Linked DNA regions of Homo sapiens. The protein of the gene in region 1 purifies or fractionates together with the protein of each later gene. This does not show direct contact. Each region holds a gene or a part of one and is shown in the gene's direction. Other genes may lie near its edges. The genes, in order: CAPRIN1, STAU1, EZH2 and G3BP2.

The links.
Region 2: the proteins of CAPRIN1 (region 1) and STAU1 purify together in Homo sapiens (affinity purification with mass spectrometry; 2 studies listed by BioGRID and IntAct, with this or other methods). This does not show direct contact.
Region 3: the proteins of CAPRIN1 (region 1) and EZH2 purify together in Homo sapiens (affinity purification with mass spectrometry; 2 studies listed by BioGRID and IntAct, with this or other methods). This does not show direct contact.
Region 4: the proteins of CAPRIN1 (region 1) and G3BP2 purify together in Homo sapiens (affinity purification with mass spectrometry; 5 studies listed by BioGRID and IntAct, with this or other methods). This does not show direct contact.

Annotation. Positions count from the first base shown.
Region 1 is NC_000011.10:34,082,731-34,090,043, forward strand, and holds part of CAPRIN1 (caprin-1), read left to right. Parts: intron 1-94; coding exon 95-147; intron 148-224; coding exon 225-311; intron 312-3,333; coding exon 3,334-3,489; intron 3,490-3,574; coding exon 3,575-3,683; intron 3,684-6,664; coding exon 6,665-6,726; intron 6,727-7,313. UniProt on the Homo sapiens protein: mRNA-binding protein that acts as a regulator of mRNAs transport, translation and/or stability, and which is involved in neurogenesis, synaptic plasticity in neurons and cell proliferation and migration in multiple cell types.
Region 2 is NC_000020.11:49,115,236-49,122,548, reverse strand, and holds part of STAU1 (double-stranded RNA-binding protein Staufen homolog 1), read left to right. Parts: intron 1-2,420; coding exon 2,421-2,567; intron 2,568-4,140; coding exon 4,141-4,216; intron 4,217-4,452; coding exon 4,453-4,772; intron 4,773-5,300; coding exon 5,301-5,423; intron 5,424-6,681; coding exon 6,682-6,767; intron 6,768-7,313. UniProt on the Homo sapiens protein: Binds double-stranded RNA (regardless of the sequence) and tubulin.
Region 3 is NC_000007.14:148,811,144-148,818,456, reverse strand, and holds part of EZH2 (histone-lysine N-methyltransferase EZH2), read left to right. Parts: intron 1-339; coding exon 340-580; intron 581-1,065; coding exon 1,066-1,235; intron 1,236-1,678; coding exon 1,679-1,773; intron 1,774-2,502; coding exon of another isoform or gene 2,503-2,509; exon of another isoform or gene 2,510-2,904; intron 2,905-2,910; coding exon 2,911-2,951; intron 2,952-3,417; coding exon 3,418-3,543; intron 3,544-4,319; coding exon 4,320-4,498; intron 4,499-6,736; coding exon 6,737-6,832; intron 6,833-7,313. UniProt on the Homo sapiens protein: Polycomb group (PcG) protein. Catalytic subunit of the PRC2/EED-EZH2 complex, which methylates 'Lys-9' (H3K9me) and 'Lys-27' (H3K27me) of histone H3, leading to transcriptional repression of the affected target gene.
Region 4 is NC_000004.12:75,670,275-75,677,967, reverse strand, and holds the start of G3BP2 (ras GTPase-activating protein-binding protein 2), read left to right. Parts: upstream 1-4,556; 5' UTR 4,557-4,760; intron 4,761-4,810; exon of another isoform or gene 4,811-4,949; intron 4,950-5,073; exon of another isoform or gene 5,074-5,155; intron 5,156-5,266; exon of another isoform or gene 5,267-5,462; intron 5,463-7,693.

The DNA of each region.
Region 1 (7,313 bases):
GCATAATGACGTGTATCTACCAATATCACACAGAGTAGAGTAGTATCACTGACCTAAAAATCCTTTTGTTTTGCACCATTTTTTAACCTCTTAGAACCTGAGCCAGCAGAAGAGTACACTGAGCAAAGTGAAGTTGAATCAACAGAGGTATGATTTTAATTTAATGCTGCCTTTACTTTGCTGCCTTTCAAACAAATGTCTCAAACATTTACTTTGCTTTGCAGTATGTAAATAGACAGTTCATGGCAGAAACACAGTTCACCAGTGGTGAAAAGGAGCAGGTAGATGAGTGGACAGTTGAAACGGTTGAGGTAAGAGTTCTCTGTATTGCAAAGTTGTTGTCTTTGTCTTCAGTTAGTAATTTTTATCTCTACTGAGAACAAATTAAGATTGTTTTTTGCATTATTAGTACATTTATTATAATAACAGACTCATTACACCAGACTGTTACTTCCAAAAAATGAATGTTTATCCCTGTGGATGTTTAATAGGATCCCTGCTTTGCTGAACCAATCTAAAAAAATTATTTTATACAAAGTTATCTGTGGATTAATCTGTTACCATGATTTGTCTCTTACTGAAATTAGGTTGCTCTGTAAAAATCTGGGCTCCCACACTGATAGCTGTGTTTTGGGGTATCATCTTGCACTCCTCCTTTACCCTAATGCTGTTTGGTCACCAGGCTGTAGACTTCCTCTAGCGTTTTCTAATGCTGTCTCTCAACTGATAATGATGATTTTTTTCGGGTCCTCATGTCTAGTTCAGTGACTCTCTTCATATTACTCCTCTCTGACTGCCTCCAGACCATCCTATTCATTGTCACAACTTAATTATTGGAAAAGTTAGCTTTAAGTTACTTGTACTTGAGGCTCTCAGTGATGCCTTGTTACCTGTAAGATACAGTCTAAAAACCTTACCAACTGGTCCTGGCCTTCCTTTTGATCTTCTTTTAGATGTCTTTCTTTACACCCCCAAGGTGCAGGAAAATAGCTGTAAGCTGAGGGTAATATGCTTTTCCTTTTAATATGTTATTCTTATATCAAGACCATTCTCTTGGCCGGGCACGGTGGTTCATGCCTGTAACCCCAGCACTTTGTGGGGCTGAGGCAGGTGGATCACATGAGGCCAAGAGTTAGAGACCAGCCTGGCCAGCATGGTGAAACCCAGTCTCTACTTCAAAAACAAACAAAAACCTGGGCATGGTGGTGCATGCCTGTAATCCCAGCTACTTGGGAGGCTGAGGTACGAGAATCACTTGAACTGGGGAGACAGAAGTTGTAGTGAGCTGAGATCGTGCCACTGCATTCCAACCTGGTTGACAGAGACTCTGTCTCAAGAAGAAAAAAACCCATTTTCCAAAGAGATTGCAAAGTTTTTTTTTTTTGAGAGTCTCACTCTTGCCCAGTAGAGATGGGGTTTCACCATTTTGGCCAGGCTCGTCTTGAATTCCTGACCTCAAGTGATCTGCCCGTTTCAGCCTCCCAAAGTGCTGGGATTACAGTCATGAGCCACTGCGCCTGGCCCATAGATGTTATAATTGTGCCAGCAACTTCATCCCTCTGTTGGAGCACCAAAATGTCCCATTGGTAAGGTAAAGAGAGTAGGCACTTACCCCAGAAAGGTACTTGGGATGAAAATACTGCTCAGGAAGTCCCAACAAAATAGTGTATATTTGCTGAATTAAAGAATGCAGTTCAGAAATGTTATAGGAGGATTAGAAGAGAAATCAATCAAAAAGATTAGTAGAGGTGATTTACAGTTGTTCCTTGTTATACCAGGGGCATTGGTTTTAGGACACTCCCACACACCGAAGTCTGCTCATACTCAAGTTGTGCCATGTATCTGCGGGACCCACATATATACAGGTGTTTCACATCTCAAGAGTACTGGAGGATAAGTGAACCTGTGCAGTTCAAGCCCATGTTGTTCAAATGTCAGCTGTATATATGAGGTGTACAAACCCATTGAGCCTTGACTAAGTCGATGGGATGTATGTTTTTAGGGGAGCCAGGTAATAGGGATGTATAGCATGGATGTAGAAGTAGAAATGAACTATTAACATATTTGTTTTATTGAACATAGAATGCAAGGTAAATATTGACATAGTAGGAAGAAGTTGGGAAGCAGTATACAGTGCTTTGTAGTTAAGTATTTTTTGGATTTTATTTGAGAAGAGCATACTACTTGCCACTGTGCCAGTGTGGTTTGTTCTTTGTATCTAGTAGGTGGGCCTTTCTAAAGGCTATCCACATGAGATTCCACGAATTTTTGGAGCATCCTGAAGTTGGTATTACACAGATTGTTGGTTTCGCTTTGGTAGTGATTTTTATCTGTGTTGTTTATAAAGGGAATAGCTGATTTTGCCTAGTTTCAACCAGTATGACTTGTCCAGTTTTAAATCCAGACAGAATAATATAAATTTGATGTAATAAAAGATAGGATTTCCTTGCAGAGCAGGGAATTACTAAGAACAATAAGCAGAGGAAATTATTAGAGCTGGGAAAAGGCTAATAGAGTGAGCTTTGGCTTCTGTAGCAGTTTAGATGAGTTGGTAAAGCTTGATCCTATGGTGTTGGCTGAGAAAATGGAATGGGAAAAACCCAAATCTTGATGATAATAATAGCTAACATTTCTTGAGTGCTATGTACCAGGTTGTGAGATAGATATATATTTGACATAGATATATAAATCCAGTTACTATAGAAGGCATAACAGTTTTAAGAAAAATACATTATTTTAGGATGTAAACACAGGTAATCTTTCTTTGAAAGCAGCTTATAAAATAAATCTGAGGCTGGGCATGGTGGCTCATGCCTGTATTCCCAGCACTTGGGATGCCAAGGCGGGTGGGTCACAAGGTCAGGAGTTCAAGACCAGCCTGGCCAATATGGTGTGAAACCCTGTCTCCGCTAAAAATACAAAAATTAGCCGGGTGTGTTGATGGGTGCCTGTAATCCCAGCTACCTGAGAGGCTGAGGCAGGAGAATTGCTTGAACCCGGGAGATGGATGTTGCAGTGAGTCGAGATCCCGCCACTGCTGTCCAGCCTGGGTTACAGAGCTAGATTCCGTCTCGAAAGAAAAAAAAATAAATAAATAAGTAAATCAACATGAAATGCTACATAGTGGTCTTATGGAACTGAAACACTGTAGAAGTGATGACATTTTTCAGAATGTTAAATTTGGCATAAATGTAATTCATTTGGGTAACTGCATTAAAGCCCGTTCTGTTTATAGTATAGATGGTTTATGTAGTGTGGGGGACCCATCATGGTGGTAGTGAGTGGAGCTTTTTTGCTCTCCTATTCCTTCTAATCCTTTTTTTTCTACCTTAGGTGGTAAATTCACTCCAGCAGCAACCTCAGGCTGCATCCCCTTCAGTACCAGAGCCCCACTCTTTGACTCCAGTGGCTCAGGCAGATCCCCTTGTGAGAAGACAGCGAGTACAAGACCTTATGGCACAAATGCAGGGTCCCTATAATTTCATACAGGTATGTTCATTTTAGTCAGACTCTGTAACAGAAAGTTTAAGTGTTTATATTATTTGACTTTATTCTATCCTAACTTAACCTGTAGGATTCAATGCTGGATTTTGAAAATCAGACACTTGATCCTGCCATTGTATCTGCACAGCCTATGAATCCAACACAAAACATGGACATGCCCCAGCTGGTTTGCCCTCCAGGTTAGTAGTGGTACATTTTTATGTGAGAGAGAAATATAAGGCCAGTACTTTCAGGTTTTAAAAAGATTGTGAAAATAAATTTTGTTTATTTTAATGACTGTTTAATTTTGACTCTTAGGTCTTTTAATTTGATAGAAAGAATGTTATTGTTCCTATGATTTGAATTAAAAATGTAGTTTATAACTGTTTATTTTTAAACTTTTCATTGGCATGTAGATATAGAAAAATATACGCAAGTTTAATGAGTTTTTATAAACTGAAAACACCTGCAGCTAGATTAAGAAATGAAACATTACCAGTACCCCAGAAACCTACGTTGTTTCCTTTCAATCACTAGTTACCCTCACCCCTAGCGATAGCAACCACTTCCGTACTTGTAACTGTAATAGACCAGTTTTGTCTGTTTTTGTAACTTTAACAAGTGAAATTTTGCTTGGCTTTTAAAATTTCAAAATTAATCTAGGAGTAAAAATAATAGAGGTGCCTTTTTTTGAATGCTTTTAGCTTTCTAGGAGAATTTCTGGATTTTATTACCTTAAAAAAATACACAGCAATGAAGTGGGTAAGGGAATATGTAAGAGGCAAAGGGAAGAGAGAAACCACAAGACAGTTTCAGACTCTTTCTGGACTTACACCATTATTTGAAGTAGTAGCACTAAATACAGTTGGTGCCTTCCATTGGGTTAAGTGGACCTTCTCTCCAGGACTATTAGTGATTGTGAGTCATCTTGGTTTTTCCCAGAACACATCAGTTTTAGTTGCACAAAAGTGGAACTAAATAAAATAACCTATTTAATGTTGCATGATGTTAAATATCATAAAATAAATTGCTGAGTAAAAGTATGTTTAATGACAGTTAATTTGGTGTAAGGTAGTTAGGATTTTTCTGAAGTAAAGGGAGCTCATATCTCTCACATTTTTTTTTTTTTTTTTTTTTTGAGACGGAGTCTCGCTCTGTCGCCCAGGCTGGAGTGCAGTGGCGCAATCTCGGCTCACTGCAAGCTCCGCCTCCCGGGTTCACGCCATTCTCCTGCCTCAGCCTCCCAAGTAGCTGGGACTACAGGCGCCCGCCACTACACCCGGCTAATTTTTTGTATTTTTAGTAGAGACGGGGTTTCACTGTTTTAGCCGGGATGGTCTCGATCTCCTGACCTCGTGATCCGCCCGCCTCGGCCTCCCAAAGTGCTGGGATTACAGGCGTGAGCCACCGCGCCCGGCTCTCACATTTCTATCAAGAGTTTTAGAAAACAGATCAAAGGTGACACCTACAAGAGAGCAATCATGGTTTTTAGTGTTCATTTTCTGAGCTCTACCAAAGGAAGAGAGTAAGTCGTTTTCTCAGCTGGGGAGTTGTGTGAAAGTCAGTATACATAGCACTGATAAAACCTGTAAGGCTATTTAGTTATTTACATAATGCTGAGTCCATTAGACTCTCCAGTGAAAATGGGTACTTTCTAAATGACTAACCAAAGATCGTCGTTTTGATTATCTGTTTAATCATTGTTGGGAAGGGAGGTGAGAGAGTGATGGGAATTGTTAAGAAGATGCATGCTGAGTTGAATATAGGCTGTTAAAAAGTATATATTATTTATTTGTTTATTTAGAGACGCAGTCTCGCTCTATCGCCAGGCTGGAGTGCAGTGGCGCATTCTTGGCTCGGCACGCTGCAACCCCTGCCTCCCGGGTTCAAGGGATTCTCCTGCCTCAGCCTCCCCAGTAGCTGAAAGTACAGGCACACACCACACTACACCCAGCTAATTTTTGTATTTTAAGTAGAGATGGGGTTTCACCATGTTGGCCAGGATGGTGTCAATCTCTTGACCTCGTGATCCACCCGCCTCGGCCTCCCAAAGTGCTGGGATTACAAGCATGAGCCACTGTGCCTGGCCGAAAAGTACATATTTTAAATTTTCTTTTTCTCTAGAAACACTTGAAATTGAAAGTTGGTTATGTTAACATATATTGAGCCGGGTATGGTAGCTCATGCCTGTAATCTCAGTGCTTTGGGAGGCTGAGGAGGGAGGATCACTTGAGCCCAGGAGTTTGAGACCAGCCTGAGCAACATAGACCTCGCCTCTACAAAAAAATTAAAAATTAGTCAAATAAAAAAGTTAGCTTGGCAGGGTGGCATGCATCTATAGTCCCAGCTACTCAAGAAGCCAAGGTGGGAGGATTTCTTGAGCCCAGAGTTTGAGACTACAGTTAGCTATGATGGCGCCACTGCACTCCAGCCTGGGCAACACAGTGAGACCCTGTTTCAGAAGAAACAAAAGGTCAAAATGGAATACTATCTGTCTGAGGTCTAGAGTATGAATAATGCCACTTTATTGTACAGCTTTAAAAGTCTTTTTTCATGGCACTGATTATTTGTTAGTGCATTCTATTAACATTTTACTTTACTTTTGGAAAAAACAAGATGAAACCAATTGTGAAAGTAAACTATTAAATAATAACCACTGCCGGTAAACCAAAATGCTCACTTGAAAGCTAAAATTTTATCTGCATTTCCCAATTTACTTTCATGATTGCTAAAAAGTTTATTTATGGTTTGGCTATAGAAATTTACCTTTAATTGCTGGGCATGGTGGTTCATTCCTATAATCCCAGCACTTTGGGAGGCTGAGGTGGGCAGATTGCTTGAGCCTAGGAGTTTGAGACCAGCCTGGGCAACATGGCGAAACCCTGTCTCTACTAAAAATACAAATATTATCCGAGTGTGGTGGCACACACCTGTAGTCACAGCTACTTGGGAGGCTGAGGTGGGAGGATCACTTGAGCCTGGGAGGCAGAGGTTGCAGTGAGCTAAGATCACATCACTGTACTCCAGCCTGGGTGACAGAGTGAGACACTCCCCCCCCCCCCCCCCCCGCAAAAAAAAAAAAAAAAAAAAAAAGCCTTTAATAGCGAAATAAAAGGTATTTAGACGCGTCTCTCTAAAAATTTAATTTTGTTTGACAAAAATGTTTTGGTCACCTTTGCAGTTCATTCTGAATCTAGACTTGCTCAGCCTAATCAAGTTCCTGTACAACCAGAAGCGACACAGGTAAGAGTGATAAAACTATTTTCTTCAGGGCCAGGTTAGGTGGCTCGTACCTATAATCCTAGTACTTTAGGAGGCTGAGATGGGAGGATCACTTGAGGTCAGGAGTTCAAGACCAGTCTGGGCAGTGTAGCGAGACACCATCTCTATTTTAAAAAAATAATTAAAAAATATTTTTTCACTTTTGTTTTAATTGGTTCCTTGGTTTCTTTCTTAGCTTATGAAAGAAAATAAGAATTTCATCAGTGTCCAAGTCTTCTGTTGGAATTCAGCAAATTTATTGTTGTGGATAGCTGTCAGCCTTTATTTTTATGTTTAGGTTCATTTTTCCTCTTGATGACTTTTTAAGTTTTTCTTAAGTCTTGCATTTTAAATAATGTATTATAATATAATAAGCCTTTTTTATTTAGAACTGAGAATTTCAGAAGACATAGTTTAGACATAATTCTAAAATTTAGTGCAGATTTCTCCATCTTAGAAGTACTTGTGGAGGGCTTTTATAACGAGACTTGGGTTTATTTAACGTCGAGCTTCAAAAATATATATATTTTTGCAATTTTTAGGTTTTATATTATACAAATTTAAAGAGA
Region 2 (7,313 bases), on another chromosome or scaffold:
GATTAAGTTGTTTATCTTAATGCTTAAAAAAATGAATGTAATGTCTGCACACCAGCACTACTGCTGGGTGCACTGGTGGGAATGTGGGTGTGTTGCACTGAAATTTGGAAGAAAGAGTCCTGGGGTGGTGGGTGCTGGGAGAAGTTTTTCTTCATTACATCTCCTTGAAGGTTTATGACATTGCTCTTTACCAAAGGTAAATTTTGTAAGTAGTATCAAGAGATCTGTTCCTCTTCCTCCTAATTCTTATGGAGTCTGGAATCTAGGGTTACCTCTTCCTTAGATTGGGTGACACTTCAGATTAGTATGGAACATTTCTTTGTACTTAGCTGATTAAGTTCAAAGCTAAGTGGTCATTTCACATAGGCAGCTTAACTTAATTGTGATTTGAATTTAAGTGCTTTCTGATGTAAGACAGAATCCTTATCTCTTGTATAGCAATTTATAACTTAGAAAGTTGACCTCGTATATTTTACCTATGCAGTCAGAAGGTAGGAAAAGAATGATCCTTTCATTCCACAAAAGGAAGTTGCAGTTTGCTGAGAGGATCAGTAGTTTGCCCAAGATGAAATGGCTGGTAGATGGCCAGGTTGGAATTTAGTCCCAGGCCAGGGAATGGTTTCTTTGACTCTCTGAGTCTTGTGACCTGGGCTTTTGGTTTTAGCAGCCAGGTGCCTGTTATTACAATCAACTTGGAAGGGGGTTGTAAGTAGTGATGTGCTGGAACATGTTTAACAACCAGCTCTTCTTCGGGGAGGGTGGTTTGGTGGAATGAGCTGAATATGTATGTTATAGATATATACATGGGTGTTATATACATGTGTGTTATAAATTTTACTGACACAAAGGATGTGTGTTATAAATTATACTGACATATATGTGTGTTTTATAAATTTTACTGACAGAAAGGATGTGTAGTACAATTTATAAATAATATACACTTTATTGTAAATTTCATACATATTTCAGTGTGACAGTTACCAACGATAGTGTTATAAAATCAGACAGCACATAATGGTTTATTACTATCCAGTTCAGCAAAGGTGTTGCTCATGTCACTGACAAATACATACTGTAGATTTGAGATTTTGGTTGTAGCATGAATACTGGTTGAGATACATTTTTTTTGGGGTAGAGGGGAATGGAGTCAACTTGCTCTGTTGTCCAGGCTGCAGGGCAGTGGTGTGATCTCGGCTCACTGCAACCTCTGCCTCCCAGGTTCAAGTGATTCTCCTGCCTCAGCCTCCCGAGTAGCTGGGATTCACGGGTGCCCACCATCACGCCCAGCTACTTTTTGTATTTTTAGTAGAGATGGGGTTTCACCATGTTGGCCAGACTGGTCTCGAACTCCTGACCTCAGGTGATCCACCCACCTCAGCCTCCCAAAGTGCTGGGATTACAGGCGTGAGCCACCACGCCCGGCTGGTTGATGTTTTTTATTTATGTTAATAGGTAAGATGAAAGTAAAACAGGCTGGGCTTGATGGCTTACGCCTGTAATCCCAGCATGACGGATCACTTGAGGTCAGGGGTTCGAGACCAGCCTGACCAACATGGTGAACCCTCATTTCTGCTAAAAATAGAAAAGTTAGCCAGGCATGGTGGCACACGCCTGTAATCCCAGCTACTCGGGTGGCTGAGGCAGGAGAATCGCTTGAACCTGGGAAGTGGAGGTTGCAGTGAGCTGAGATCATGCCATTGCACTCCATCCTGGGTGAAGAAGTGAGACCCTGTCTATCCCAAAAAAGAAAAAAGAAAAAGTGAAACAATGAAGACATGTAACATCACTCATTTGTAAATGATATGAGTGGCTTCTCTGCAAAATTAGATAATTTTCAAAGACGGGAAGATATTTCAGTTTTTTGTGCTAGTTACAATGTAATGGCTGCAGACTTCTCATGCTTTTAAGATTAACCTGCTTTATTAACCTTTTCATCATTGTAGGTTTAGAGTTAGACAATAAACAGCTTATGATCTTTGATACGTAGCATTTGTATATTTCTGTGGTATAAATAGTCCCACCATGGCTGATTTCAAGCTCTCAAAGTGATACTTCCAATGGCAATGCTGGGAATAGATGTACAGTAGTTCACCATCACAGACTGTTTCCATTGTACAAATGCAATAGCTGGGCAGACCCTCAGAACACAGATGATTATAAAATGCAGTCAAAAATTACCTCTGTTAAAATAATTATCAGCTTATATAATTAAATGTTTAATACTGGCTGTGTTTAACAGCCAGCTTCCCAAACTCCTGACTATTTAATAATTAGCTCTCAGAGACAAGGAGGCCAGGTTCGGGGCACTGCTGTTATCTTGCTTCTGACCATAGTTGGTTATTTTGCTGACACACCAATTCCTGCCTGGTTGTTATTCTGAAGGTTTAAGCACTGGTCTGTGTTTTGACTTCTTTGTGCAGGTGAAGGTTGGAAACCACACTGCAGAAGGAACGGGCACCAACAAGAAGGTGGCCAAGCGCAATGCAGCCGAGAACATGCTGGAGATCCTTGGTTTCAAAGTCCCGCAGGCGCAGCCCACCAAACCCGCACTCAAGTCAGAGGAGAAGGTGAGTGCTGTGGGCTCTCTGATTGCAAGATGGTCTCTCGCCTCACCCTAGGGAACTGGGGCACCTCCAGGGGCAGGCTTCAAGGCAAGGCTTTATCTGCCTGACAGTTCAAGGAGTCCTGCTGAGGAGTGTCTCATCCATTTGGACCATAATGTGCTCAGAGGGGCCTCGCATGTCCACTGGCCCCAGGAGGCTCTGGGTTAGATCGTTGATTGTGTCAGTATCTTTGTGGTCTGGGGACGCTTTGTGGAGGGCAGCTTGCTCCTCTCTATTTGTAGGATGAGGATGAAGGGTAATTAGGACTGAAATTACTAAGTGTGATTTGCACTCTAGAAATGAAGCCTGTGTGAAAGATTTATAACTGTTAGGCTTTCGTTAATTGTGGAATAGGCTTTGATTTTTCTGGCAAAATAAGACAGTGTGACAGTAGAGACAGGCCAAATCCAAAGTTTAGGTTTGGGATTTCTTTTTTCCTATGTGAGTTAAACATCAGATGAAAATAATCCCCTGTTGAAAAATTCACGGCCAGGTGTGGTGGCTCAAACTTGTAATTTGGGAGGCTGAGGCCTTGAATCCAGGAGTTCAAGACCAGTCTGAGCAACATGATGAAACCCTGTCTCTACAAAAAATTAAAATATCAGCCAGGTATGGTGGCTTGTACCTGTAGCCCGAGCTACAAGGCTGAGATGGGAGGATTGAGCCTTGGAAGGTCAAGGCTGCAGTGAGCTGTGATCATGCCACTGCACTCAGCCTGGGCGACAGACCCTGTCTCAACAACAACAAAAAAGGAACGTAAAAAGAAAAATTCGTGTCTGCCAGAAGTGGTAAGCAGGACCTCAGCAAAAGCCATGGCTGACCTTCTTCTTTCCCATCACTGAATGGTCCTGGTGAGATAAACTTGAAATCAGGCCTGATTCATTCATGTCTGCCAGTCATATTGACAGAAACAGCATCAGTCATGGCCAGTTAATAACTGACTGGGACCCCAGATACCACCAGTATAGATCTTAGACTTGGCTTTAGGGTTTTTCATTTCAGAATCTTGTAGGACATTCAGAGTGTCCTTTGTTACTTCTTAGAAAGGTGATGTTGTGTTAGACAAAATTCTTAGGTAATAACATTTTCCCCGTAAGGGTGTTAATTTTGGAATGTCACCTTATTTTTTAATTGGATATCAGCTCCAGGAAATATTCTTGATTTATTTGTTTAGCTTCAGTCTGAAAGCTTCTTTCCCCACCTTGGTGGGCTCTACCGTCTAGCATCTCTGCTCTTTCTGGTTAAATGCTTCCCGTCTTCCTGTGGGTGCAGAGTGCAGCTCAGCATTCACAGGTTAGTGCACTTTGTTAGATGCTCTTTGTGGGCAGGGGTGTGGGCAGGAGGGTGCATTAGGAGAAGGAGGCAGGCTCTGCCCAGGTGTCTGTCAGGGTGCCAGTGGTCAGGTGGGGCAGGGTTTTTCTGCCGATTGCCACAGTTATTGCTGACTGGACTTTGTGTAGATTTAGACAGCAGGAGCTAATTTTTCAGTGATCTGATTTATGCTCATGGCCTTTTTTTTTTCTTCTTCTTTTTTAAGACACCCATAAAGAAACCAGGGGATGGAAGAAAAGTAACCTTTTTTGAACCTGGCTCTGGGGATGAAAATGGGACTAGTAAGTGTGATCTTAATATCGTCTTCCTCTGAACGTGATTCTGGGATTTGCATGGGTCCTGAATAACAGCAGGAGCCCAGCCAGTGAGGTCCCGCATGCAAAGTGTCTTTATCATTCCCTGATTCCCTGCGCTGCCATGCGTGCCAAGGGGAGGGCCAGCGTGGGGTTTGATGGTGTCATTGCGTTTTTCCAGGCTGTGGATGTGGATTCGTGTTTACCGTGTATGTCCCTCCCAGGTAATAAAGAGGATGAGTTCAGGATGCCTTATCTAAGTCATCAGCAGCTGCCTGCTGGAATTCTTCCCATGGTGCCCGAGGTCGCCCAGGCTGTAGGAGTTAGTCAAGGACATCACACCAAAGATTTTACCAGGGCAGCTCCGAATCCTGCCAAGGCCACGGTAACTGCCATGATAGCCCGAGAGTTGTTGTATGGGGGCACCTCGCCCACAGCCGAGACCATTTTAAAGAATAACATCTCTTCAGGCCACGTACCCCATGGACCTCTCACGAGACCCTCTGAGCAACTGGACTATCTTTCCAGAGTCCAGGGATTCCAGGTAACTGTCTGGCCTGAGCTGTGATGGCTGTGCCTCAGGACAGTCATCTTTTGGCTTCTCTCAGAAAATGAACTTTGAACTTTGTACTTTTTTCTTAAATCAAGTTCTGTCCAGGGATGGGCTGGGGAGCAGTGATGGAAGGGTAGGAGGTATAGAAGTATTGTAAGCATATGTGGTAAGAGAAATATCTTTATCCTTTGGTAGTAAGATTTCAACATGCAAGCCAACCCTAAAAGCTTCTAACCACTAGCAGTGGTTGTAAATTTGGATTTCAAAGAACAGACTCATCGTGCTGACACTTTCTGTCTGGTAGGAAAGGATATGGCTTCTCCCAGTCTTGGGCTTCTGAGCAGACACCTAGGTTCCTGGAAGGTTCTGGGCTGACAGGGCAGGTGTTAGTATGGCCACAGTGGGGCTGAGTTGGAAAAAAGAGCTGGTGATCTTGCTTGTGGGGCCTGGAGCTGCAGCCCTCCAGCCCACTCATACTTGCTGTTCCCTACCTAGCCTCAGCTCTCTTTTCCCCCTTAGGTTGAATACAAAGACTTCCCCAAAAACAACAAGAACGAATTTGTATCTCTTATCAATTGCTCCTCTCAGCCACCTCTGATCAGCCATGGTATCGGCAAGGATGTGGAGTCCTGCCATGATATGGTACGTCACACCTTGGGTGAGGGATTGGGGTGTTGTGTGTTTATGTGGAGCCTGCCTTGGTTCAGCTTGTTACTAGCCTGAGGAAGATGGGAGAAAGATTGTCCCATAGACCTTGAGAGCAATGAATCGTTTGATAGTGTTCATATTTTTGAAGACTTTTTGTCATAGCTGATTGGATCGATTTCTCACTCTTGATCAGAACTCATCAGCTTTAGCCCACCTTTCCCTTCCTTTTCCCTGCTGGCCTGGAGGGGCAACTGGGATCCTGCAGCTCACCCAGAGACTGCACTCACTTCATCTCTCACCAGAACAAGGAATTGCAGGTCCACGTTCTGGCAGCTGTAAAAACCACTTGCTTTGGTCTTCTGTTCAGATGAAATTATTGTTATAAGAAAACTGAGAAAAGGAATTGATCAGATCAACAAATCTAAGTAAACTGTGATGTATTCACTTGATGGGATGTCATGCATGCATGAAATTAATGTCTCTGGGTGGGGTGTGGTGGCTCACACTAATCCCAGCACTGCGGGAGGCTGAGGCAGGCGGATCACCTGAGCTCAGGAGTTCAAGACCAGCCTGGCCAACGTGGTGAAACCCCATCTCTACTAAAAATACAAAAAAAAATTAGCCAGGTGTGGTGGTGGGTGCCTGTAATCCCAGCTACTTGGGAGGCCAAGGCAGGAGAATCGCTTGAACCCGGGAGGTGGAGGTTGCAGTGAGCCAAGATTGCACTACTGCACTCCAGCCTGGGCAGCTGGGTGAGACTGCGTTTCAAAACAAAACAGTGTCTCCGAAGATAATGTAATAAGAAGAAAAATACATGATAGGCCGGGTGTGGAGGCTCACACCTGTAATTCCAGCACTTTGGGAGGCCAAGGTGGAAGGATCGCTTGAGCCTAGGAGTTTGAGACCAGCCTGGGCAACTTAGTGAGACCCTGTCTCTATAGAAAGAAAAATACATGATAGATTTTTGTTAGAAAGCAGGATATAACATTTATACAGTCTGGTTACCACATGGTTAAAAATACTAGAAGGAAAAATATAACATTTTCAGAGGTTATGATTCAGTGAGGTAACTGAATATTTTTTAATTTGTATTTTAAATTAAAAATTCAAAGTTTTATTTAGTAGTACCAGAGTTGAAGAAGTTGCCACCTGTTTGCTGGGCAGCAGGAACTCTCTTGCCTGCCTGACCAGTGTATTATGCTGTGGTCCCAAGCGGTGGCTGTGGCTTTACCCTTCTTTCCATCCCCACTAGGCTGCGCTGAACATCTTAAAGTTGCTGTCTGAGTTGGACCAACAAAGTACAGAGATGCCAAGAACAGGAAACGGACCAATGTCTGTGTGAGTGCACTGATGAAGGGGAAGGCGCTGATGATGGGGAGGCTGCCCCTCGTTTGTGTTGAGTTTACACTATCTGCTGACTCAGCGGGGAAATATTTGCCTGAGTTACTTTCTGGCCCTTTTGCCTGAAAGTTTTCCAGATTCTCTGGGCAGAAAGCTCTACTTTTAAAAGACATTTTGAGGCTGGGAACAGCGGCTCACACCTGTAATCCCAGCACTTTGGGTGGCCAAGGCAGGTGGATCATGAGGTGTCAGGTGTTTAAGACCAGCCTGGCCAAGATGGTGAAACCCTGTCTCTACTAAAAATACAAAAATTAGCCAGGTGTGGTGGCAGGCACCTGTAATCCCAGCTACTTGGGAGGCCGAGGCAGAGAACTGCTTAAAACCTGGGAGGCGGAGGTTGCAGTGAGCCGACATAGCGCCACTGCACTCCAGCCTGGGCGACAGAGCAAGACTCCGTCCCAAAAAAAAACAAAAAAACCTTTTTGAGTTGGTCATACCTTCACATGGTCAGAACTCTGCATTATTTTACAAGGTACAATCTTC
Region 3 (7,313 bases), on another chromosome or scaffold:
TTACCTTTATTACATGAAGTATATTTCATACTTTATCTTCTTATATTTTAACTTAATTATAACTAGCTAATATATTTTACAAATTCACAATATAGAACTGTCTTGCCTGATTTTTGTACCATTCTAGGAATATATAGAACCCATATTTCTCTTTCTGAAATTTTCAGACTATCAAAAGCATATCAAAACAAGTATATTAGACATGCAAATGATTATTTGTGATAAATGGATAATGTGATACATTTTTTGACTAACCTGGCTTATATAGTATTTTTTTTTCTCTTCCATCAAAATGAGTTTTAGAACTTTGCCCTGATGTTGACATTTTTCATTTCGTAGGAGGGAGCAAAGGAGTTTGCTGCTGCTCTCACCGCTGAGCGGATAAAGACCCCACCAAAACGTCCAGGAGGCCGCAGAAGAGGACGGCTTCCCAATAACAGTAGCAGGCCCAGCACCCCCACCATTAATGTGCTGGAATCAAAGGATACAGACAGTGATAGGGAAGCAGGGACTGAAACGGGGGGAGAGAACAATGATAAAGAAGAAGAAGAGAAGAAAGATGAAACTTCGAGCTCCTCTGGTAAGACACGTCTAATAACTGGGTTTTACTGTTCTGTGAAAGTTCGTGTTGTGAGGATTAAGGATGTATAATGCATTGAATAATTTTCTTAGTTGGTTAGTTTCAGTATAAAGACCAGAGTTATCTCAAGAATGTGTAGCTGTGTTGTTTCTGTTTCCTGCCTGCACCCGTACCCTAGCTTGTGGTGTTTGCCCTGCTTGGTTGTTTGAAAGCTGATGATGCACTTTATTCTCATTCTTTGTGCCATTTTCTTTTTTCGATCTTTCTCAGGTAGGGAATAATGAAATTTGGATCATTTGGTTTAATATTCTTGACGTTCTGTGAGTAGTTTTGTTGGAAAATGTGAACTACGATGGGTTAGTGTTTTGCCGATTGGATTTGAGTTGTCCTCATCTTTTCGCTTTTTTCTTAAGCACACCCTGAATTGTACTTCTTAATATTATTTCCAATCATTTCTTGACCAGTGCTTACATTTGGTTTTGTAGAAGCAAATTCTCGGTGTCAAACACCAATAAAGATGAAGCCAAATATTGAACCTCCTGAGAATGTGGAGTGGAGTGGTGCTGAAGCCTCAATGTTTAGAGTCCTCATTGGCACTTACTATGACAATTTCTGTGCCATTGCTAGGTTAATTGGGACCAAAACATGTAGACAGGTAAGATATCCGATAAAAATGTTGTTAAAAGAGCTTCAAACATAGAGATAAAACTGTACTCGTTGTCCAAACAAAGAAAATTCTTGGTTATTACTAAGCTCCTATTCATCTCCTAAAAATAATTTTTTTTTCTTCCCAAGAGGGAATTGAATGAAAATTATTCTCCAGGTATGTTACAGAATTTCCCCAATGTAGACTTTTAAGGTTAGATAGCAGTAGCTTTTAAAAGCTAGTAAGAATTGAAATTTAGCATCACAGTTCTTGACCAGAATATAATTACAGCTACCCCTAATGTGAGGGTAGGGACAGCGATGTGTGTTATATCCCCAGCATCTAGCAGTGTCACAGAAGAGACAAAGACATTTTTCTGGTATGCATGAGTATAAGAATGGTTTGCCTAAATAAGACTGTCCTCATGGCTCTGTGACTGTGCCTCTTGTCAGGTGTATGAGTTTAGAGTCAAAGAATCTAGCATCATAGCTCCAGCTCCCGCTGAGGATGTGGATACTCCTCCAAGGAAAAAGAAGAGGAAACACCGGTGAGTCTGTCATGAAGCTCCTTAGAGAAGTCAACATAGATAGACACTGCAGGCAAGGCCCTTCCTAAGGGCTGTTGTTGGTTTCTACTTAGTCTATTTTTAAAAAACCTTAAACTGCCATCAAAAACAGAACTATGGAATCTTATTTCCACTGGGAATTGCTAGTATTTTTCTATAAGAATACAGCAGCCTTCAGTATATTTGGTATGTTAAGAGTCATAAAAATTACGGTTACCAGACTGCATTTGGGTTAAGAAAAACATATTTAGTAGCTTTTGCAGTAAAGGTTACGTAAACAATTACTTTAACATCATGAAATGTTCTGTGTTTCTGATGTGAGCTCTGGGCCAGTTTTTAGAAGTATCTTTTATTCCAGGAGCTTGAATTTCTAAGTTGTGTGGCATTGCATTCCGATACTCCTAATGGGTACCCTACTTTAAGCTTGTGTGAATGTTATTTTCACCTTAGCGAATGTTTTCAGGCTGATTTGATTTGTAAATGTAGAACCAGAAAAATTGATGAGTGGACTATCTGCTCTAATCTCCCCATACCTCTACCTCACATTTTTAAAAATGAGAAACCTAATTGGGTAGGTAAGGGTGCAGTTAGATTATGCTTCTTAAATTGTGTACAGGCTCATGTTACATTTTCTTACTTTAACAAAAATAAGTGTAGGGCCAACCCAATTTAGAATTTTTTTAAAGTCAAGTTTTTATTTTTATTTTTTAGGCTTTAGGAGATGCTTCTGAAATTTTGGTTGAATTATTTCTGACCACGTAGTTCACTTGCTTGGTTTATGATGCCTGAAATAAGAGGAAGTGATCAGTGTCATCCACATCAGAATAAATCAACAGGCAGACACACCTGCTGCTTTGTGCAGCATTGGGAGCTCAGGAGTTCTGACCAGGAGTCATGGATGAACACAGGAAATGACGTCTTGCCACACCTGGGGCAGCCTGAGCCATCAAGCTGTTTGAGTTGCTTCAAACTGATGGCAAATATAAACTGGGCAGGGCATGACTCTTGGCTTTAACGCATTCCTGTATTCATGGCACAGATAGATCCAGTTAAGCAGCTCTCTGTTGGATTTGTAGCTTCCCGCAGAAATTTGGTTTAATTTTCTTTGTGTTTTTGCAGGTTGTGGGCTGCACACTGCAGAAAGATACAGCTGAAAAAGGGTTAGCATCTTTCCATTCCTCTCATTATTAGCTTAACAATATCTGCTTTGTTTTCATTTGTTTTAGAATAGTAACTGGATTAGAGCTTGGGTTATTCTAATATAATTGCCTTCTGTATGTTAAACCAATTTGAATGGAGGACGTCTACTGATGAATCCCCAGTCAATTCTCTTCTGTAAAGTGGAGGCTGACTGGAAGGTGTGAGTCCGAGTCAGTTGAAGGAGAAGTGCTTTGGGATGGGACTGAGATGTAGCCGTGCTTTAGATGGAACTCATAAGCACTTGGGGGTGGGAGAGTATTTTTTGCCATCGTTGTGGAAACCGGAATATGTGTAATGTTATGCATTCAGTAAAGGCAGGCCAGCTACACTCCACAGGTAGTAGGGAAGAATGTACTCGTGTTAATTGTGTATGATCGTTTCCATCTCCCTGGATTCATTGGCCTGCATGATGTTATCTTTACTCAGACGGCTCCTCTAACCATGTTTACAACTATCAACCCTGTGATCATCCACGGCAGCCTTGTGACAGTTCGTGCCCTTGTGTGATAGCACAAAATTTTTGTGAAAAGTTTTGTCAATGTAGTTCAGAGTGTAAGTATTTGTTGCTTTGATGCAATTGCATGAGAACTAAATAGGTCTTTGGTTAGCAATTTAAAAAATCAAAAATAAGAACATGGGAGCACTCCCTTGTTTACTTGACGAAACTCATCAATTTGACAAGTATTTATTGAGCCCCATACCTGGCCCTGTGCCAGTGGCCAGTCAGTCGCCTGGGTGTTGTGTGTCTGTGTGTGTGAGGCAGGCAAAGTTGTATTAAAGGAACCTGAATTTTATTTTTTTCTTCTTTGATCATTTAAATTAAGTTGTATTAAAGTTGGCACAGATTGTAAGAGGAATCTAGAAGGAGCTACCCAAATAATTTTTGGGCACCAGAAATCGTCAGAGTTAGGAGGGTTTTAGTCTTCAGATTAAAGGAATGTAGCATAAACATAGTAGATTTTTATAATTGTTTAATGAGACTGCACATGAAGCTTGGGTATTAAGGGAGTGTTTAGAACTAGGGGCTATTGGAATGGTCAAGGACCATGGATATTGTTCCATCCAGACCCTTTATTCACACCGACTTTAAATATATACACTATTTAACAAATGAAAAATGGAAAAACAACTCAGTGGTGGTCTTTTTCAGTGCAAACAGCTATAACTTCGCTGTTAATACTTCCATTTCCTTGTCTATATAGTAGGGTAATAAGGTGGTTGTGAGGGTTGAGAGTCAGTGAGATGCCCAGTACAGCCCTTGCCACGTATCTTTCTGCAAGTTTTTGCATACGGTGATGAGTGAAGAACCTCCAAACCTCTCTCTGAAGGTCAAAACCGCTTTCCGGGATGCCGCTGCAAAGCACAGTGCAACACCAAGCAGTGCCCGTGCTACCTGGCTGTCCGAGAGTGTGACCCTGACCTCTGTCTTACTTGTGGAGCCGCTGACCATTGGGACAGTAAAAATGTGTCCTGCAAGAACTGCAGTATTCAGCGGGGCTCCAAAAAGGTGAGCAACAAGTCACTTCTGGAAGATTGTTTGTAGTTAGCTATTTAGTGATGCAAATGTCAGGATTGCCTTAGATGATTTAGCTGGGGCAAAAAGTAAAAGTGATCCTTGAAAGGTGCAACTGATGAGAAAGTGTTCATAATTTTCTCTGGGTAATGCACCCTTGGGCAGTCTCTTCAGTTTTATATAGAGCACCATACTCTGATAGTAGGAGAAACCAGCAAATTCTGAGAAGTAGCCATTCATGGTATCAGATTTAGGAATAAGAGGTATTTTTTCTACCTGTTTAATAGATTATTTGAATTTGTCTTTTAGTTAATAGTTTATCTAGTATCCTTAATGCAAATAAATGGTGATTTCTATCAAAATATAGACTCATTCTCATCAAAGAGTATTTATAGATTCCTTGCTATGTAGAGTAAAAGATGAAATTTCCCATGGCAGGTTTTTATAGACTTACTTCCTGTTTGTTTAATAACCTTGAAAAAAACCCAGCTAGGAACTATATATTTTTAGTCTGGGGAATTGTATGTAGGTGAGTTAACTCTATCAGCCAGGAAGTAATGATTGAGCAAAAGACACTTCAGCAGCATGTATTTGGGAAATTTCGTATCTTTTTTTTTTTTTTAGGGCAGATGATAAGTTCTTTCTTCAGTCAGTTCTTTTTATAATAATAGCTGACATTTATTAAGCATGTAAAAATAGGCACTGTTGTGAGTGCTTTAGTGGATTTGTTCATTGATTCTCCTAACCCTGTGAGTGAGGAGTAAGTGTTAACCCCCATTTTACGGGTAAGGAAACCCAAAGTCACAAGACTTGTAAAGGAGCAGGAGATCAAATCCTCCAGGCTCCCATTAACCTGCTCTTATGCTCTGTGTGTGTGTGTGTGTGTGTGTGTGTGTGTGTATGTGGGGTGTAGAGTAGACATATCTTTGTTGTTGGACCATTTATTTATAATTGAGAACACACTTCTTACCAGCAAGTCCCCTTCTACCAGAAATTCTGCTCCAGGCAAAACATTGAAGTTCTCTTGGTTTTGTTTGTGTCTTTGAACCAAAGTCTGTGTTTATGGCAGAGAGTTGTGCAGGGTGGTGGGCTTTTTGTTTTTAGCTTTGACTTTTTTCTTTTCTGTTAGACATTTAGATGATTTTACTCTAGGCAGTTATATGTCCATTTAGGTCATTGGATCACAGTGACTCTGGTTCCGTTTCCGATGGCATACCTGCTCAGACCTAAAAATCTCAATTTCCCCCCCAAACAACTTACCATTGTACTCCTTCCTCACTTTGTTCAGAAAGTGGGCAATTCTATTCATACTGACATGTCCTCTTTGTAAGACATTTTTTAACTCTTAAAAATGTTAAACTATGTAGATACCTTTTACCAGTTGGGTTTCATTTGCATAGCAGTATTTAGCTAATTTAGTTTCTGATCAGAAGGCTATTTGGGAAGTTCACATGACAGGTGAGTGGTAAGATGGTCCAGAATAGGAATAGATAGGAAGCCTTTGTAAAGGTCACAAGAAAATTTTGGATGAAAGCATAATACTGAGCCGTGATGAAAAATTGGCATATGTTGGGGAACACATCCCTAAATACATAATTTATAGCAATGATCATCTTGGCATTTCTGCTGAAAATAGACTACTGGACTGACAAGATCATGATAACACCTCCCGGTAGTTTCTTGTGTTATCCTGAGGAGGTGGGGTGGAAGAACAAATCCAAAGCCAAGCTGCTATGGGCTTCAGAGGGAACCAACGCCAGTGAAGAATCAGGGGGTGTCCTGGGGCTGAAAATGGAATAACTATTAATAGAATCACTTGGGGAAAGTAGAGGGAAAGGTATGGAGAGGAAGAGTGATTTGGTGGTGTCCTTATATTAAATTCAGGTTGAAAGTGAATTACTCGAGGAAATCAAGGGCTGAAGATACAGGGAAGCCAAAAGTGCAGCAGGCCTAGAGCACCTTGCTGAACGATGGTCATTGCAGAGGACCAACACCACCAAAAGGTTTTCTGTAAGACAGAGATTCTTATCTGCTGTATAAGGAAAACATAATGTTCATAGCCATTCTCAGCAGCTTTCACGTTGACTGAAGCTGTGTGCCCAATTACTGCCTTAGAACAAACAGGTCTGAGGATTTACAGTGATAGCTTTTGTTTTCATTCTGTAGTCTACTTTGTCCCCAGTCCATTTTCACCCTCCTTTTTTGATGATGTGATTGTGTTTTATTCTCTAGCATCTATTGCTGGCACCATCTGACGTGGCAGGCTGGGGGATTTTTATCAAAGATCCTGTGCAGAAAAATGAATTCATCTCAGAATACTGTGGAGAGGTAAGGCACTGATAACCTGTATTCAGGTGGCATTGTATATACTAACTTTACTTTATTTTAGATTGATTTTATTAGGTAAGTCTGTGGGTTTGATTGGAAATGAATTGCCATAAACTGCCTTTTCAGCCTGGACTTCTGCATGTTTGTGGATTTGCATGCTTAGTAACTGGATTGTGCTGGGCGCGGTGGCCGACTCCTGCAATCCCAGCACTTTGGGAGGCCGAGGCAGGTGGATTGCTTGAGCTCAGGAGTTGGAGACCAGCATGGGCAACATGGCAAGACCCCATTGCTACAAAAAATGCAAAAATTAGCCGGGCGTGGTGGTGCATACTTGTAGTCCCAGCTACTTGGGAGCTGAGGCAGGAAGATCGCTTGAGCCTGGAAGAGCCTGGGAGGTTGAGGCTGCAGTGAGCCATGTTTGTGCCACTGCACTCCGGCCTGGGCGACAAAGTGAGACCCTGTCTCAGAGGGGAAAAAAAGC
Region 4 (7,693 bases), on another chromosome or scaffold:
ATGAACTCCCTCAATCCCCTTTTATGAGCACACGAATTCCATTCATGAAGGTGAGGCCCTCATGACCTAGTTGCCGCCTGAAGGTCCCACCCACCTTTTAATACTTTTGCATTGGAGATTAAGTTTCAACATGAATTTTGGAGGGGCACATACATTCAATCCACAGCATCATCCTTCCTAACTGAATTAGTAGTGGGGCCAAGACATTTGTTTTGCAAGCCTTAAAAGTTTAAAAACATGGTGAGTAAAGACACTTTCCAAGAAAAATGCGTTTCCCTTAAGGACTTGGATTTTACTCCCTTCCAATGCTTGGTCTTCATAAACCTTATTTATGTGGGGTGTGTGACCCCTAAACATGCATGTAGTCATCTCTTTTTTTTTTTATTTTTTATTTTTTGAGACAGAGTCTCGCTCTGTTGCCCAGGCTGGAGTGAAGTGGTGCGATCTCGGGTTACCACAACCTCCGCCTCCTGGGTTCAAGTGATTCTCCTGCCTCAGCCTCCCCAGTAGCTGGGACTACAGGTGCGCACCACCATGCCTGGCTAATTTTTGTATTTTTAGTAGAGACGGGGTTTCACTATGTTGGCCAGGCTGGTCTCGAACTCCTGACCTCGTGATCCACCCACCTGGGCCTCCCAAAGTGTTGGGGTTACAGGCGTGAACCACTGCGCCCAGCCGCATGTAGTCATCTCGTATACACCTACTTCATCAGCAAAAGTGGTGATAATGGACTTGGTTGATCTTTTAGTATTCAGTAAAGTTGAGAATGGTCAAATGAAAGGGTGTAGAGGAAAAGCTTTATAAATTCAAATGTCTTATCTTATTCAAATACTTATCTAAGTATTTTATGCTGAAGTTTATAATAAAAATCAGGAATCAGGTAATATAATTCTAGTAATTTTACTTTTAAAAATTTACCTGCTAATGGTGATTGGGTCTGATTCATTTACTTTTATTTTTCACAGTGTTTTGATAAAGGTTCACATTAAAGGCCTTGGGGTGGTAATGTGATGAGAATGTCAAAGGAAGAGCTGGCTGGGGTGGTGTGAGAAAACCAGTGGTAAGAAAAGAAATGGAAGTAATAGGTAAGGACTAGATCAGGTAGGCCTTGTAGGCCATGGTAAGGACCTGAGATTTTGTGTTGCCTTTTAAAGGTTTTGGGACCATCTCAATTATAACTATGAAAGATCTGGCTGCTGTGAGGGGAACAGACTGTAGTGGAATAAGAGTGGAAGCATTGAGGCCAAGTAGAAAGCTATTGCAATAGGCAATGGTGGCCTGGACTACTATAGCAGCAGTAACAGTGATGCAAAGTATTTAATCCAGAATAAATGTTGAAGGTAGAGGGAACAGAAATGTATTGACAATTCGGCGAAGTGGGTGGATCACTTGAGGTCAGGAGTTCGAGATCAACCTGGCCAACATGGTGAAACCTCGTCTCTACTAAAAATAGAAAAATTAGATGGGCGTGGTGGCACATGCCTGTAGTCCTAGCCACTTGGGAGGCCAAGGCAGGAGAATGGCTTGAACCTGGGAGGTGGAGGTTGCAGTCAGCCCAGATCATGCCATTGCACTCCAGCCTGGATGACAGAGCGAGACTCCATCTCAAAAAAAAAAAAAAAAAAAAAAAATTATTGGCAATTGGCTGTCAATAAATTGGTGTGAGAAAAAGAGGTTTTTGGCCTGAGCCACCGAATGAATACCGTTCACACTGGTCTCCCTGCCTAGTCTATAGGAGGTGGACATTGCTTCATGGAGGCTATGTTTGAGAGGCAGGGAGATTAGTTAGGAGGCCACTGCAGTCTTCCTGGGAAGATGAAGGGGCCTGAACCTGGGCAGGGGCTATTTGTGTAGAGATATGTTTATGAGGTAAAAATCGCCAGTTAGAATAGGTTAGAGATATTTACTTAACATTGAAGATCGCTGAATCTTTTTTCCCATTAACTCCACTTATTGGTGTCTACTCAAGAGCAGGGTTACCTGAGGGCTGTTTCTGTGTAGCTCTAGAGCTAAACTAAAAATGTTTCTTAAATTTTTAAAGGATGCGAGAGAGAGAGGAATATGCAACAGAAACCATACGTGGCGCTCAAAACCAAAAATATTTACTATCTAATCCTTCCCTTATCAAACCGTTTGCCCACCTCTGCCCTAGATCAGTGGTGTTTGTTTTTTTTGAGACGGAGTTTTCACTGTTGTCACCCAGGCTGGAGTGCAATAGCGCGATCTCAGCTCACCGCAACCTCCGCCTCCCAGGTTCAAGCGATTCTCCTGCCTCAGCCTCCCGAGTAGCTGGGATTACAGGCATGCGCCACCACGCCCGGCTAATTTTGTATTTTTAGTAGAGACGAGGTTTCTCCATGTTGGTCAGGCTGGTCTCAAACTCCTGACCTCAGGTGATCCGCCCCCCTCGGCCTTCCAAAGTGCTGGGATTACAGTCGTGAGCTGCCGCGCCCGGCCTATATCAGTGGTTTTTAAAGTGTGGCTCCTAGAGCAGCAGTAGCACCATCAGCTGAGAACTTGTTAGAAGTGCAAATTCTCGGGCCTCTGTTGAATCAGAAACTTAGGGAGTGGGGCCCAACTATCTGTTTTAACAAGCCCTACAGGTGATTTCGGTGCACATTAAGGTCTGAGAACCACTGCTCTAGAGAAAGTTCTGCACCTCTGCAGGATACATGGTGAAGAATATTTATAATAGCATTGCACGGAAGAGCTCCAAACCGGAAACACTTGAAGGTTAGTCAGCAGTAGGGCAGATAAGTGAATTGCGGCAATTAGTACAATGGGAGTATTCTATAGTTTGCCTGAGGGTATGGACTGTGGAGGCAGATTGCCTGTGTTTGAATCCCAGCTCCAGTGAATAGTAGCAGTGTAGTCCTGGGTAAGTTACTTGACCTCTCCAAGCCTGTTTTCTCATCTATAAAATGGGCATAAAAATAGCAACTACTGGCCGGGTGCGGTGGCTCACGCCTGTAATCCCAACACTTTAGGAGGCCAAGGCGGGCGGATCACGAGGTCAGGTGTGTTCGAGACCAGCCTGGCCAACATAGTGAAACCTCGTCTCTACTAAAAATATAAAAATTAGTTGGGTGTGGTGGCATGCGCCTGTAGTCCCAGCTACTAGGGAGCCTGAGGCAGGAGAACCGCTTGAACCCGGGAGGCGGAGGTTGCAGTGAGCCAAGACCGTGCCATTGCACTCCAGCCTGGGCGACACAGAGAGACTCCATCTTAAAAAAAAAAAAAAAAAAAAAATATATATATATATATATATATATGTACATACATATAGCAACTAGCTCATAGGGTTACTGTGAGGCTCAGAAGGCTGTATAATTACAAGAATGCCTGGTATATAAGCCCAGTATATTAAAGGACAGCCGGCATGTAATGTATTTTGATGCTTTAAGGAAAAACATCAGGTTGATTTCATTAAAGTGATGGTCTGCCCAAATATTTTGCATATAACAGTATCTTTAAGCAGTCTAAAGGTAAAGATATTGTAGACTTTGGAGGCCCTAATGTTGGCATTGCCTCTGCCAATATTTAAGGTATTTGACGTATTGTCTTAACATGCCAAATACCTTAAAATTGCCCTTACAGGATTGCGAAGAAAACTGATGAGATGTACATGCTTGCGTCCACCATGTTTAGTTCGTAAGCATTCATTAATGTATTTTTTCCTTTCCGTTTCTTTGAACACTTCCTCAGTCCTTCATTCCAAAATTCCTGTGCTATCTCGGTATTCTCTGAAAACACTGCCAGACCTAAGATGCAAAGTGGCTTCCTTGACTACAAGATTTGGCTTGGCTTTGTCCATGAAACAAGGTCACCAGTGTCTCACCCTGGGGGCAAGTCTGGGCTTAGAGCTAGAACAGGACTGTAATCCTTGTATTTCAGGCCTTCTTTTAGCTTTAGTATGTAAAATGCTTTAGTATCTACTGATATTTAGCCATGCCTAAATTCGTAACAAGGACACAAAGAAATAGTCTTTTCCCCCTCTGTAAAGCCCACGTCATGTTCTTCCTTTACTGCAGGGCCTCTTAATGGGGCTTAAAACCTAGGATGGGTTAAGTAAACAATGTAGGTGAGTTTAGTGTGCAAACAGCTGAAATCACCGGCTGCATTTTAAGCTCGTCTACAGCAGCAACCTGCAGACACCTATTCAGAGAGATTACTAAATTCCCTCCTTCCCATTAATAAAAAGGACCAGAATATCAGTCTACAAAAGACACTGCGTTGCTGCGAACCAGCTCTCGCTTGCGCGATCAGGAAGAAGGGCGGCAAGGCTGGAGCCTCGGGACCGGAGAAAGGCAGCCTGCTTGTGACGTCAAATCAGCGGACTCTTATCTTGGCTTTAGGCCGGTTCCGGTTCCCCGGCTTTCCGGGCGCGAGCGTGTGCGAGCGCGGCAGCGTACTGCGCGTGCTCCGCAGAGGGACACGGGAAGGTTGGGTCCGGCTCTGGAGGAGATGCGTGATTGGCTGACGCTGTGCTCGGGGGTTCCCTGGCCCTTTCGGCAGGGGTAAAACAATAAGAGGGGGCGGTGGCAAAGGGGGCGGGACGTCCGTGGTCCTTGTCGCACGTCGCAGCGCCTGGCGCCCGGGAAGAGGTGGTTGTGAGGCAGACGAACTCGCGGCTCTCCGGCTTCCGAGGCTTCCGAGTTGTCGGAGGAAGGGGGCGGCGAGCAATAAGAACCCGCCGCACCCGGTCCTCAGCGACTCTTCTGACCTCCGCGCGACGTACCCGCCGCCGCCGTTGGCTGGAGGTGTGTACGGGCGCCGGGAGGGGAGGTCGGTGTGGTGGTCGGAAAGGGACATTCCATTCGCGCTCCGCGGCGCGAGGCAATCGTCCGGTGTGTGAGCCCGGGAGCCGGAGGTGTAGCGGCAGAGACATTGTTCTTGCCGGCTCCCTACGGTGCCGTGTGTGCGTGAGAGAAGACCAGTCTTTCCTCTAGGTGAGGGGTGGGAGGCCGCCTGGGAAGGGAGGTGACCCGCGAGCGTCTTGCGGGCAGAGGGCTCCGAGTGCACAGGTGGGGTTGAGGTTTATTGGGGATGAGGTGGCGAAGTGGGGGGGGAGGCACGCAGCAGCTCCCGAAGGCGCGCTGATGGAAGCTTAATACAGGAAGTGTGGGAGCAGGCTTTCTGGAGGGGATGTTTTAGGGTGGGTAGCCCACCGTTCCTGTTTCCGAATCGTTTTCGGCTCTTGTACCTTGTTCCTTCGGAGCGGAGAGGCCGTCGCCACCCCGCCCGTGGGGGGAGGGGAAAAGAGGTTGTGTCGACGGAGGCAGAAGCGACGCAGATGCGAAAGTGGCGGCCTCCGGGCACCATTTCTGTGCACGGAAACAGAATCCGGGTTTGAAGGCAGCCGCCGCTTCGCTTACCCAGTACCTAGTGTTCCGTCGTGTTTGACCAACCCCCCTCTCCCTGCCACCGCGGGTTTAATCCGAACGTGTTCGGATACTGGAACTGTAACGTGCGCCTTCTTCGTCCCCCTCTTATGCAGACGATCCCTTATTGACTCGGGAATGGCTTTTGGGGGATGGGTTCCCGCTTTTGTTGGGATGGGGGGACAGAAAGGAACAGAAGCTTCCCTAGATTGTGTTGATTTTGTTAGTGGAATCTGATAGAATTTTTCCTGCGTCTCTAAAAGCAGATTTCTTAAGATGGCCCTTTGCCGCTTTGGGGCGAATATAGATTTTCGTCTATAATTTCCTGCATAGATCAGCTTTTTTCCCCAAGACATACTTAATGTTCTAACGGATTTGGGGGGTGGGAGGAGAGTGCCTTTTCCTTCATAACAACAACAAAAAAAAGGCACTTGCACTTTTAGCTGGAATAGTAAAGTCCTGTTCTCCCTGTATGATTGTTGTGGGATATTAACTTGGATTAAGATACTGTGGTTTTAGGTTCAAGGCTCTGTACCTTGTTCTGGTCTTTCAAACGTTAGTGTTGCAGGTACCTGGATCTAGGAAACATTAACTGTCGTTAAGAGAGCCCCGGTGTACTAGAGTGGGAGATGATGGCAATTTTTCTCTAGCTCCATATTTGGCAGTTAATATAGCCTTAGGCATGTGAACCAAGTTTCTAAGTAAACTTTTGGCCCTGTTAGCATCCAGTGGTCTTTTTGATAATCCAAGATTCCTGGTCTTAGGAGATAAACGGTACGATGAGTTTGAACCTCAGGATTGAATTATCCTTTCTTTGGCAGTAACATTTTTCTTAAATGTTTAAGATTACTCTTATGGGCCTTTATGTTATGATTTAATCTTTACAAACTAATTCTGAAAAGCAGTCAAGGAATTGTAGGAATAATAAGGACCTAGAATGAATTTCTTACTAAGAGCTGTCATAGTTCAGATTGATATTCAGGGTCGAAATATTAGTAATAGTGAAAAAACATCAAGAGTGAACCAGAATGCTTGTGGGATGGATGGGGATAAAAATTAGAAGGTAAAGAAGAAAACACATTATTTGACCATTTCGTAGAGTAACTAACTTAACTGTTCAGTTAGCAGCTGAGCAGTTGATTTGTCAGCAGGCAACTCCTGGTTTGAAGAAAGTGTTGGCACTGTGTCTTTAGATTCTGAAAACTTCCCTCCTTATCCTGCAAAATTATCGCTGTTTATTACGCATAATTAGGATTGAACATTTTCCCCCTAGATTGCTTTAAAAAGACTTTCCACATATTTTGAGTGAATATGGAGACAGTGAATGACTCCTTTTCAATGTTGATTTTGAAAGGCACAAACTAAAGTGTTGCGTCTGAACTTAAATTCAGTAGAATTTAATGGACAAACATGACCTAGTTACTCTCCACTGGTAGACACTTGTTTTATATCCGATAGAATAAATTGGTCCACCCACCTTCAGGAAGGTCCTGGCCTACCTTCAGAAGCAATAGAATTAGTTTCTTGACTGTCGTGTTTCTGCTTACTTTTATCTGCTAATTTCCAAGTATTTTACCCTATCTTGAAACCATAGGTATATTGAAAATTATTCTTGGATTTTCTGTTGCTGTCCTGCTGTATTCCTTTGCTTTTCACTCTTCTCAACAGTTTCACATAAGCTAACAATTGCTTGTTTAAAATTAATTTTTTGTATTGTTGGAAGAGCTGGCTGCTCTTCCAAAGCGGTTGTTCCTAACCAAAGTGTAATGAAAACATCAGTTGAGTCAGGAGTCAGGAGACCTGATTTCAAATCCTCTTTCTTTTTACTGTAACTGAGGAACCCCAAACACCTTTCCTTAGGCTCTCTAAACATCCTTTTCTGTAAATGAAGATAATGCCCTATCTATTTTAAAGACAAAAGAAAATAGTAGGTTACTTGTTAAACTTTAAAACATAGTATAAATACATGCTTTATTTTTGTGGACAGCAAGCATTTCCATTTCTTACTGCTTGGTCACTTTTAATAGCTTCTGAATTTTAAAACTAGCCTCCCTCAACTTCTGAGAAGGACAGAAAACAAAAACACCTTTTGGAGCCTGAATAAGAGATTTAATCCATAACTTACTTTTATTATTTATTTGTACCACTATGATTCTTAGATCTTCTTTGTGAAGCTTTCATTCAATGGTGTACCACAAAAGATTGAAGGTCATTTCTTTAAAAAGGTATAGTGTTCCTTAGATTGTTTAAGTTACTTCAAACAAAAACCATCTGGAATTTCAGAAAGTTCCAGTATTAATATGCATTTAGCT